Regions from separate parts of the Homo sapiens genome. Here region 1 is linked to region 2. Evidence: fine-mapped expression QTL. A gene starts in region 2. The other region holds a variant in brackets. All regions are shown on one strand. Distances are between the middles of the regions.

What was found. PIP is the estimated chance that this variant, and not a neighbour inherited with it, causes the effect.
Region 1: its variant is fine-mapped to the expression of EDEM2 in whole blood (TOPMed, PIP above 0.99).

Annotation. Positions count from the first base shown.
Region 1 is chr20:35,013,922-35,019,298 of GRCh38, forward strand. It overlaps TRPC4AP (transient receptor potential cation channel subfamily C member 4 associated protein), which reads right to left. Exons shown (of 19, transcript NM_015638.3): 10 at 2,087-2,218. Among named protein-coding and RNA genes, the nearest start is that of MIR499B, 26 kb to the left of the region's middle. RefSeq lists a silencer at 4,172-4,372. The variant T/C (reference allele first, on the strand shown) is at 2,318.
Region 2 is chr20:35,144,808-35,150,184 of GRCh38, forward strand. EDEM2 (ER degradation enhancing alpha-mannosidase like protein 2) reads right to left here and starts at 2,529. Exons shown (of 11, transcript NM_018217.3): 1 at 2,345-2,529; 2 at 2,018-2,128; 3 at 172-211. The coding sequence starts at 2,451. It overlaps MMP24-AS1-EDEM2 (MMP24-AS1-EDEM2 readthrough), which reads right to left. Exons shown (of 15, transcript NM_001355008.2): 6 at 2,018-2,128; 7 at 172-211. The coding sequence starts at 2,112. RefSeq lists enhancers at 1,711-2,314, 2,563-2,692.

The DNA of each region.
Region 1 (5,377 bases), 130 kb before region 2:
CAGAAACCCTGGGCTCATACGACTGGGGCAGTAGGGCCAAGACATTAAATAAGAAAACTGGCCCTGGGACAGCTGCCAGACAAAAGCAAAAGTGCCCTGTAGAAATGCCTCCAGGGCTGAGGCTACACAGGTATCCAAGGGGGAAACTAACCCCACTGACCTCAAGTGATCTGCCCGCCTTGGCCTCTCAAAGTGCTGGGATTACGGGTGTGAGCCACCATGCCCGGGAGCACGTTTCTATAGGTGGATGAAAATTACAATAGGATAAAACAGCAAATAAGGAAAAGCAGGCTGCTAGCTCATGCAGTGGGCAGCCCCCTCCCTGCCTGGAGTGAAATGAGATCCCCATCACAGAGATTACAAGGGGAAGTGGCTAGAGGGCCTCAGGCAGAATTTTTTTTTTTTTTTTTTTTTGAGACACAGTCTCACTCTGTTGCCCAGGCTGGAGTGCAGTGGCGTGATCTCAGCTCACTGCAACCTCTGCCTCCTGGGTTCAAGCAATTCTGGTGGCCGCTCCACAGACATTACAAAACACGAGGCAACACTCCACCCTGAGGTCTGAAGACCCAAACACAAGCATTAGTGCCCCATGAGCAATCGAAAGAGACCTTAAGAAAGTATTTTAAAAATGATTAAAAACAGAATATGCAGCAGAAAAAAGATATTAACATCATGGCTAAGCAGTTTCCGAATTGAGCCAGACAGAACATCTAGAAATGCAAAATATATTTGCTTGAAATTAAAAACTCAAATGATAAAGCAGAAGACAGGTCGCTGAGGGAAGTCCCCAGAGTGCAGTGAAGAGAAGAGGGCCCCATGGCACCAGGCCGATGGCTGGGTGGCACTTTTAGGTCCCAGAGCACTTTCCTTCTCATGCTGGTAGGCAGGGTGCCGACTAGCCGGGGGGCCAATAGGGGAAAGAGTATTATCCTTCTTTTGCAAGAAAACAGAGGCTCAGAGATTCAGTGATTCATTCAAGCTCTTCCAACAAGCCTTCCAATGTCCTGTTCAGAGCTCTCTCAAGGGGACTGTGAGAGACACAAGCTAAAGGAGAGTGCTTGGGCTCAAAAAACCAAAGCCACCTTTTTTTGTATGAGACAGTGTCTTTGCTCTGTCACCCAGGCCGGATGTGCAGTGGCTTGATCTTAGTTCACTGCAACCTCTACCTCCCGGGTTCAAGTGATTCTCCCACCTCAGCCTCCTGAGTAGCAGGGATTACAGGTGCCCCACCAACATGCCTGGCTAATTTTTGTATTTTTAGTAGAGACGGGGTTTCACCATGTTGGCCAGGCTGGTCTCGAACTCCTGACCTCAAGTGATCTGCCCGCCTTGGCCTTTCAAACTGCTGGGATTACGGGTGTGACCACCACGCCCGGGAGCACGGTTCTATAGGTGGATGAAAATTACAATAGGATAAAACAGCAAATAAGGAAAAGCAGGCTGCTAGCTCATGCAGTGGGCAGCCCCTGCCTGGAGTGAAATGAGATCCCTATCACAGAGATTACAAGGGGAAGTTGGCTAGAGGGCCTCAGGCAGGAACTTTTTTTTTTTTTTTTTTTGAGACACAGTCTCACTTTGTTACGCAGGCTGGAGTCCAGTGGCGTGATCTCAGCTCACTGCAACCTCTGCCTCCTGGGTTCAAGCAATTCTGGTGCCTCAGCCTCCCGAAGAGTTGGGATTACAGGCACCCAACACCATACCTGGCCAATTTTTGTATTTTTAGTGAGAGACGCAAGTGTCTCTCACACTAGTGAGACAGGGTTTCACCATGTTGGCCAGGCTGGTCTGTAACTCTTGACCTCAAGTGATCTGCCCGCTCGGCCTCCCAAAGTGCTGGGATTACAGGCCTGAGTCACTGTGCCCAGCCTAGGAAGATCTTAAAAGGGATTTCTGCATAGGTTGGGGTGGGGAGTGGAGTTCACTCAGATCCTACTCCAAGGTAGCTTCCAATTAGGGGACTATAAGATATGATTTTAGTTTCTGCTCTACTCCCAAAGGAAAAAAGGTCAAAGGGTCAGCAGCAGGTCTTGAAACAACTACTCCAAGCCAGTGAGGCCCCATCTGTCCCCGGGGGTCTCCTGCTTACCGGGCTACAGTCACAGTTCTGGTTGTGACCATGGAGGACAAGGGCAGATGCTGAATGCTTCCTCCAAATCAGTTTGTCAAACAAATTATTAAGTCCAGGGATCAGCTTGAACTCTGCAATCATTCTGTGAACCTGAATGGGATAGGAAGGAAAAAGTATTAAGACAAATGTGCTTGAAAAATCTAGCAAAACCTCGTGCTCAGTACACACGATAATGATATTCAGGACAAG[T/C]ATCAGTACTGTCAGTAAGGAGGGCCAGGGTCTGAAGAAAACATCCGTGTATCCCCTATGCCCAGCACACACAAACCCACTTTCTAACTTTGCTCATTAATGCTCACAATAATCCTACAAGGCATAATGTCCGGTAGTTCCTATCACAGAAGCATGAGTTTGGGATTCAGAGAGTCCTGCATATGATTCAAGAGTCCTTTGGGATGCAAGAGTCCTGGGTTTGACTCTTAGCTTTACCATGTGCAAACTTTGTAACCTTAAACAAATTCCTTAAGATTTGTCTCCTCGTATTAACATCAAAATGTTCCTCATGCTTTGCACTAGGATAAATTTCAGCTGAAAGTAAGATACAATTATTAAAAAACTCTAAGATCTAGAAAAATCTCTGCAAAGAAAAAAAAATGATCTAAGAGTTGGAAAAGCCTTTCTGAAGGATTATAATAAACCTAGAAGCTCAAAAAGAAGCTTGTTGACATCAACCACCTAAACCTTTAAAAATTCTGTATGGCAAAACTCAAGCAAAGTCACAAGCCAAATATGACAAACAGAGAACATACATTGGCAATTCATGCCACAGGCAAAGAAATTCCTCTATAAGGAGTCCTACAAATGTCTCTGATTTTTCACTTTTTCAGACTGGGAAAGATGACAAAGCTTTATAAGACCGTGTTGGTGACTTGGGCATTGGGTACATTCACACGCTGTTGGTGGGAGGGCACACTGGTATGACCTGCACAGGGAAGAGTGTTTGGCAGTAGCTCTAAAATTGCAAATCCATAATCCCTTTAAACCAGCAATTCCACTTTAGGAATTTACACTCAGACAGATCCATATAAACACTAAATGATATATATTTACAACACTACTCACTATAGCATTATTTGTAATACCCCAAAATAAATTATGGTATGCCACTCAATGGGATACAAGGCACCAGTAAAAAAGAATCAAGGTATTTTATATGTCGTGAACTGAACAATTGCCGAGAGATAATACTGGGAAAGCAAGTGTGCTCATGCTGTATTACTGATTGTGTAAAAAAAGAGGAATACAATTCGCCTTTGTAAGCATAAAAATGTCTCTAGAAGGATACACTAATAACTGGTAAAATTAGCTGCTTCATGGAACCATTAGAATAGAATGTCAAGGATCAGAGGGGAGAGAGGCTTCACTTATACTAATTTATATCTTTTAAAACAGAACTGCAGGAATGATTTCCCTGTTAAAATTTGTTTATATAACATAAGGCTATTACTAGCCCTTCTCGGGGCTGTTGTAAGGATCGAGTCAGAAAGCAGATGTAAAGCTCTGCACACAGCACCAGTGCTCGCTTATTGCTATTTTACAAGGGGGAGAAGTTCAGCAAGACCAGCCTGGGTAAGGTCAGTGATTGCAACGGCACCTAACTCAGGTGTTCAGATCTTAAGTCTGCCCCTTTCTAGCCCACTACAGGTATGCATTTATCTTGGGAGACCAGAAGCTGACAAAGACATCCCTGGCAGCCTCCATTTCCATGGACCTCTTCCTTCAACATATTAGGTTGTGTAAAAGTAATTGCGATTTTTGCCACTGAAAGTAATAGAGGTGACTATTCTCTTCCTACTAGAAATCACAGCCTCTGGCCAGTGTTAAGACTCATAAGCAGCCCAGAATCTGTTAGACTGAGGCTGATGTAAAATGACACCTGTTCTGCCACTCAGGCCTTTACTAAAACCCAGCCTGGATCTACCTTGCCCTGCTTAACTGGGGGTGGGGAGGTACGGCTGACATCTATGGTGTTCACCAAGCCATGTGCCTTCCTGTCTCACTCCAAAGGGCCCTAAGCCAGGCCCAGGTCACACAGCTATAAAATGTTCCAACAATGGCCCAAAAAAATTCATCCAGTGCAATTGCCTCACTGCACAGACTAGAAACCCAAGCTTAAGAGATTAGGGGTGAGTCACACAGCTGGGAAGAGAGGGGCCTTCTAAGGCAGACTTGGACCTGACCCTGGGTCTCCTAAGTTCAGGCCAGTGCTTAGGTTTGAGGTTTCTACTACATCATTTCCCTTTTCTCTTAACAATACCAGCTTCTCGGCCGGGCATGGTGGCTCACGCCTGTTAATCCCAGCACTTTGGGAGGCCAAGGCGGGCGGATCACTTGAGGCCAGGAGTTTCAGACCATCCTGGCCAACATGATGAAACCCTGTCTCTACTAAAAATACAAAAATTAGCTGGGTGTGGTGGTGTGTGCCTATAACCCCAGCTACTTGGAGGGCTGAGGCAAGAGGATCGCTTGAGCTGGGGAGGCAGAGGTTGCAGTGAGCCGAGGTCATGTCACTGCACCACTCCAGCCTGGGTGGCAGAGCAAGACTGTCTCAAAAAAAGAAAAAAAAAAAAAAAAAAAAAAGAAAGAAAGAAAATAGCAGCTTCTTCATGTGTAAAATTTGTAAAACAAATTTTACTTGTAGAATGCATTATTCCTACTCTCAGGTCCAGCCCCGTAGCCTGCTCTATAGCAGGATGGTAGGCAGGTGGGCGAGATGAAGTGCCACTCTACCAGAGGAGGCAGCGGGTACAGGCTCAGGCATTTATCTCTGCAGTCAGACAGCCCTGGGTTCACAAGATAGCTCTGTGACCCTGGGCAACATTCTTTGAACCCAAGTCCCTTGATAGAAAAGGCGATGGGGGACGATGGAGCTGTTGAAAAGGCTCAGTGAGGTACTGTAGAAGCTACTCAGGGGGCACTAAAAGAAACGACTGCTATATGGATGGTTTTCATTAGCACCAGAGGGATGAAACTTGACAGCACATGGGGAGCCTTTCCAGTCCTGAGATTTCAATTTGGCCAAGATTGGTCTGAGAACTTGGCCCAACTGCTCATTAACGAGGAGGCCTCTTTAAGGAGGAAGCCTTCTGTGAGGCCTGGCCAAGGAAACCCTTCCCCTTGCTACCCAGTGTAGGCAGGATCTGGGAATCCAGATCCTCACGGTGCCCGGCACACAGCAGAAACCCAGGAAATGCTGACTGTGCAAATGAGAACACGCTAGTGAAACAGTGGTTTTGGGGGGCCAGGATTTCA
Region 2 (5,377 bases):
CGTTTTTCCCCTATCTAGCTAGGCAACCACAGCCGGACGCTTCAGAATCATGAGATGCAAATAAAAGGCCTAGGAGAGGAATTCATTTTTCACCCACAGTCACGCTGCCAAAAGAGGAAGGATGTTGGTTATGTAACAGTGGAAAGGAAAAGAAACAGACGAGATACTTACCAGCAAGGTGTCCAGTGCATCAATTAGAGTCAGAGAAAAACTGCAAAAGGACAGAAATCCCAGCCGCTTAGTAAGAAAATCAAATACCAGATATTATGGCTGCCCTAGATCTGATCCCCCTAAAACTAAATGAGGCAAAGTAATGCCTCTGCCTGTCCCACTTACAGTCACAACAGAGAAACCACAGTGAAAATCGCAGGTATTCTCTGACCCACTTAATGCACCTGGGAGGGTTGGCTGATGTAGCTCAATTGTAATTAAATACATCACCTATAGTCTGGCATTCTCCTCTACCATTGGGAGGCAGTATAAGATTGCAGCTTAAAGCACAGGCCTTTCACCAATTTTCACCTCTAGGAATTTAATTCACAGTGAACAGCTGTTTGAGAGTGTTCATGGCAGTATTGCTTAGAACAGCAAGAGGCTGGAAAGAACCCAACTGTCCACCCATTAATGGGTGATTAAACTGTGTTATAAACAGTGCAAAACTATGAGTTATCAAAAAGATTGTTATCAAGACTTCTATGTGCTGATGGAAAGACATTCGAATTGTTTTTAATGAAAAAGTCAGGGTGGTTTAGTATGTTTCCATCTGTTTCAAAAAGACATGCTGACAGAAAGCAGACAGCAATTGTTAGGGTCAGTGGTGGTGCAGGGATGAACTATAAAGGGCCACAAGGGAACTTTTTAAAGTGACAGAAGTGTTTCATATCTTGACTGTGATGGTGGTCACTTCAAACGAGTGTAGGCTGGGCACAGTGGCTCATGCCTGTAATCCGCCAGCACTTTGGGAGGCCTAGGTGGGTGGATCACCTGAGGTCAGGAGTTCAAGACCAGCCTGGCCAAATGACAAAACCCCGTCTCCACAAAAAAATTAGCCGGGTGTGGTGGTGGGCTCCTGTAATCCCAACTACTTGGGAGGCTGAGGCAGGAGAATCGCTTGAAGCCAGGAGGCGGAGTTTGAAGTGAGCCAAGATCACGCCATTGCACTCCAGCCTGGGTAACAAGAGCGAAACTCCATCTCAAAAAAAAAAAAAAAAAAAAAAGAGTGTATTTTATTATATGTAAATTATGCCTTTAAGAAGTTCATTTTAAAAAGATACACATACACACATCTATATATATAATGGTATAAACCAAGAATATTTCTGGACAGATACAAAGGAAAGTTAATAGTTGGAATTCTAGGGTATGGGAGATATTTATTGTATATAATCTTTTACCACTTGAATTTGCCATTTGTATTTACTTTGTTTCAACTTAAAAAAATAAAAACCATCACAAGTTTTGAGTTTAATTTCTCCCGACCTTAGCACATTCGTGTGTAAAACAGGGATAATGGCACCTAACTCGTAGGGGTATTAAGATACTGAGCTGAGATCTGAATGACAAGCAGCAGCCAGTGATGGGAGGAAAATGGGGAGTGTATTTCAGGCACGGGGCACACCAACTACAAAGACTTAAGTTTTAGGAGTGTCACACTCCTTCCTGGATCTGAATGCCCACCTACATAATGAAAGGGGTGGGTTTTCTAATTCTTGGAGCCCTTCCACGGTATCTCGTTACTCCAGAAATTGCCTATGTCCCCACAGCTGATGCCTGTTACTGCTGGGGCTGAGCTCAGCGATCCAGCCCACCCGGCTAATCCAGGACTTTTTTTTTCACTGCGAGAGGCTAAGTGGATCCTGGAGGTGATAGTAAGAATTGCGGGGAGCGCGGCTCTAGCTCAGCTGGGAGCTTTCTGGTGCCGGTGAGGAGACCATGAAGCCACCAGCCCCAGCTGACCCGCCCGCCGAGGCCCAGAGAGTCAGACCCTGGCCGCCCCTTGCCCCTCCGCTCGCACTACCTGCCCCAGGTGTCGTGCCCGTCACAGGTGAGAGGTCGCAGCTCATCGAAGGGAAAGGCATTCTCCAGGTAGCTGTCGTAGGCGTGGTAGAACATGGCCTTGACTCGCTCCCTGGGTGGGGGACGAGAAATCAGGCATGGGGCAAGAACACAAAAACAAGCGGGGGAAGAACAAGATACAGGGCGGAAAGTGGGAATCACTAGCTGATTTCTCCCTGGGACCTAGCGGCTGTGTCGGAGCAAGTCGGGGTCTGGGATGGACGGAAAGGGAAAGGACCGGGTTCACGCTTCCCATTCCCCAACTGCGAAAGGGCGGGTCACAGTTCACCTGTAGTGGGCGGGATCTGGCGCGGAGCCGTCGGGACCTGGCGCACCATGGTGCTGAGGCAGCAGCGCGCACAGGAGGCCGAGCGGGATGAGCAGCCGGAAAGGCATAGAGCTCGTGTCCTCTCAGCGCCCCCGCAGCAGCAGCAGCCACTGCAACCAGTTCATCCTGGGAGCTGCTGCGGGTTCTTCCGGGAATCCGCGCCACTGCGCCTGCGCGCTGAGAAATCAGCCTCTCACTTCCGGACTACAAGCCCCTGAATGCAATGGGCAGCGAAACGCGGCCGAAGAGCAACTTCGGATGTACGGTTTCGGCAACACTGATCAACGTGTCTTAAAGTCAGTGGCTGTTGTTACTACTGTTATTAATTAATGTTTTAATAATAACAGCTAGCATGTATTGAGCACTTATTGTGTACTAGTACTGTACGGAGCATTTAAAATGCATTCTCTCATTCATTTTTTTCAACAACCTTATTAAGTATGAAGGCAGGGTAAGCATGAGAAATGTTCAGCCTTTACCATTATTACCTAGCAGGACAAGCCGCAGACAAAACTCCTCAGACACCGGGTTAAAGAAGGAAGGAGCTTTATTCGGCCGGGAGCGTCAGCTGACTCACTTCTCAAAAACGGAGCTCCCCGAGTGAGCAATTCCTGTCCCTTTTAAGAGCTTACAACTCTAAGGGGGTCCGCGTGAGAGGGTCGTGATTGATTGAGCAAGCAGGGGGTACGTGACTGATTACCGGTGCACCGGTAATCAGAACGGAACAGAACAGGACAGGGATTTTCACAATGCTTTTCCATACAATGTCTGGAATCTATAGATAATATAACCGGTTAGGTCAGGAGGGGTCGATCTTTAATTACCAGGCCTGGAATGCATCGCCGGGCTGTCTGACTACTGATTTCACTTCTGTCTTTCTTTTAACTCCTACATTTTCTTTGAGGCAGAAATTGGGCATAAGACAATATGAGGGGTGGTCTGCTCCCTTATTTAGGGATATTGAGTTTCCCAAACCAGTTACTTGTTGATTGTATAAGACACAACTCACATTTATTTGTCCAAAACTTCCACTCTTTTTTTTTTAAAACCTCTTGCATTTTCCGATGCTGTCACTCTTGAGGTTTCCTGAAATCCCGTCAGTTCTAGGAATTCATGACACTTCTCTCCTCCCAATTTGGGATGTGGTTACACAATCATGGTCCCTTCAGTCTCCATCTCAAACCGGAAGCTTTACCCCTGTCAGCCCTGTAGAATGTCTTGGGTAAGAATGAATACCCTGGTTGGGCGCGGTGGCTCACGCCTGTAATCCCAACACTTTGGGAGGTTGAGGTGCGTGGATCACCTGAGGTTAAGAGATAGAGACCAACCTGGCCAACATGGTGAAACCCCGTCTTTACTAAAAATACAAAAATTAGCCAGGGGTGGTGGCGGGTGCCTGTAAATCCCGGCTACTCGGAAGGCTGAGGCCGGAGAATCGCTTGAAACCGGAAGGCGGAGGTTGCAGTGAGCGAGGATCGCGCCACTCCACTCCAGCCTGGGCAAAACAGCAAAACTCCATATCAAAAAAAAAAAAAAAAAAAAAAAAAAAAAGACAAATGACTACCCTGGGGCACTATAGCTTTCAGGAGGTTTGTGATCCATTTCTCCATTCCCCTTATTCCCAAGTTTCTAAAATTTGGTCAGCACCTTAGACCACAGCAACACCCATGACTTTGGTCAGTGTGACATGCGGTAGAACCAACACTGGATTTGAAGTCAGATCTAGGATCCAGTTAATTACAACTCTGTCACTCATCTATAACCTGTGTATGTGACCCTCTCCTTCTCTGGGGCTAGCATCCTTGTCTATAAATAATGAGGAGTTTGAACAAATGGATCTTTAAGATCCTTTTCGGTCGAGCTTTCTATGATTCTAGGATTGGCTATCTCTTATTTGCTGAAAAAGTCAGATGGAAGTGATAGCTCAGTTTGTTGAGCCAGAGTGCAGCCAGGCCTCCCAAAGTGCTGGGATTACAGGCATAAGCCACTGTACCCAGCCTGGGATGTTTTTAGAAACTCTTCTTGGCCGGGTGCAGTGGCTCACGCCTGTAATCCCAGCACTTTGGGAGGCCAAGGCGGGCGGATCACGAGGTCAGGAGTTCAAGACCAACCTGGCCAATATGGTGAAACCCTGTCTCTACTAAAAATACAAAAATTGGCCGGGAGTGGTGGCAGACGCCTGTAGTCCCAGCTACTCAGGAGGCTGAGGCAGGAGAATCGCTTGAACCCGGGAGGTGGAGGTTGTAGTGAGCCAAGATCAAGATCAGGCCACTGCACTCCAGCCTGGGAGACAGAGCGATACTCTGTCTCAAAAAAAAAAAAAAAAAAGAAACTCTTCTTGGGGCTTCCAAATGGAAGGGAAAGGAGATGACAGTAAGCTGAGACCTGGATAACAACACAGGAGCACTGTATTCGTTTCCTGTGATTCCTGCAACAAATTACCACAAACCAAGTGGCTTAAAGCAACAGAAATTTATTCTCTCGCAGTTTGGGAGGTCAGGAGCCTGAAATCAATTTCACTGGGCTAAAATTAAGTTATTGACAGGGCCACACCCACTCCAAAGGCTCTAAGGGATAATCCGTTCCTTGCCTCTCTAGATTCTCCTGACTGCTGGCATTCCTTGGCTTATGGTTGTATCACTCCAGTATCTGCCCGTGCCTTCATATCGCCTTCTCTGTGGATGTGTCACATCTCCTTCTGCTTTTCTCTTATAAGGACATTTATAATTGCATTTAGGACCCCCCCCGCGCCCCCCCCAACCCAGATAATACAGGATAAACTCCCATTCCAAGATTTTTAACTTAATCACATCTAGGGGGAAAAAAAAAAAAAAACACCATTTTTCCAAATAGAGAAACATTTACAGTTTCCAGAGATTAGGACCTGGACTTTAGGTGGCTGTTTCCAGCCTAGCGCAGGGACTAAATATTTTTCAGACCTGGGCCTTTCCCTGTGACGAAATTCACCTTCTCCATATTATAAATCCTATAGCT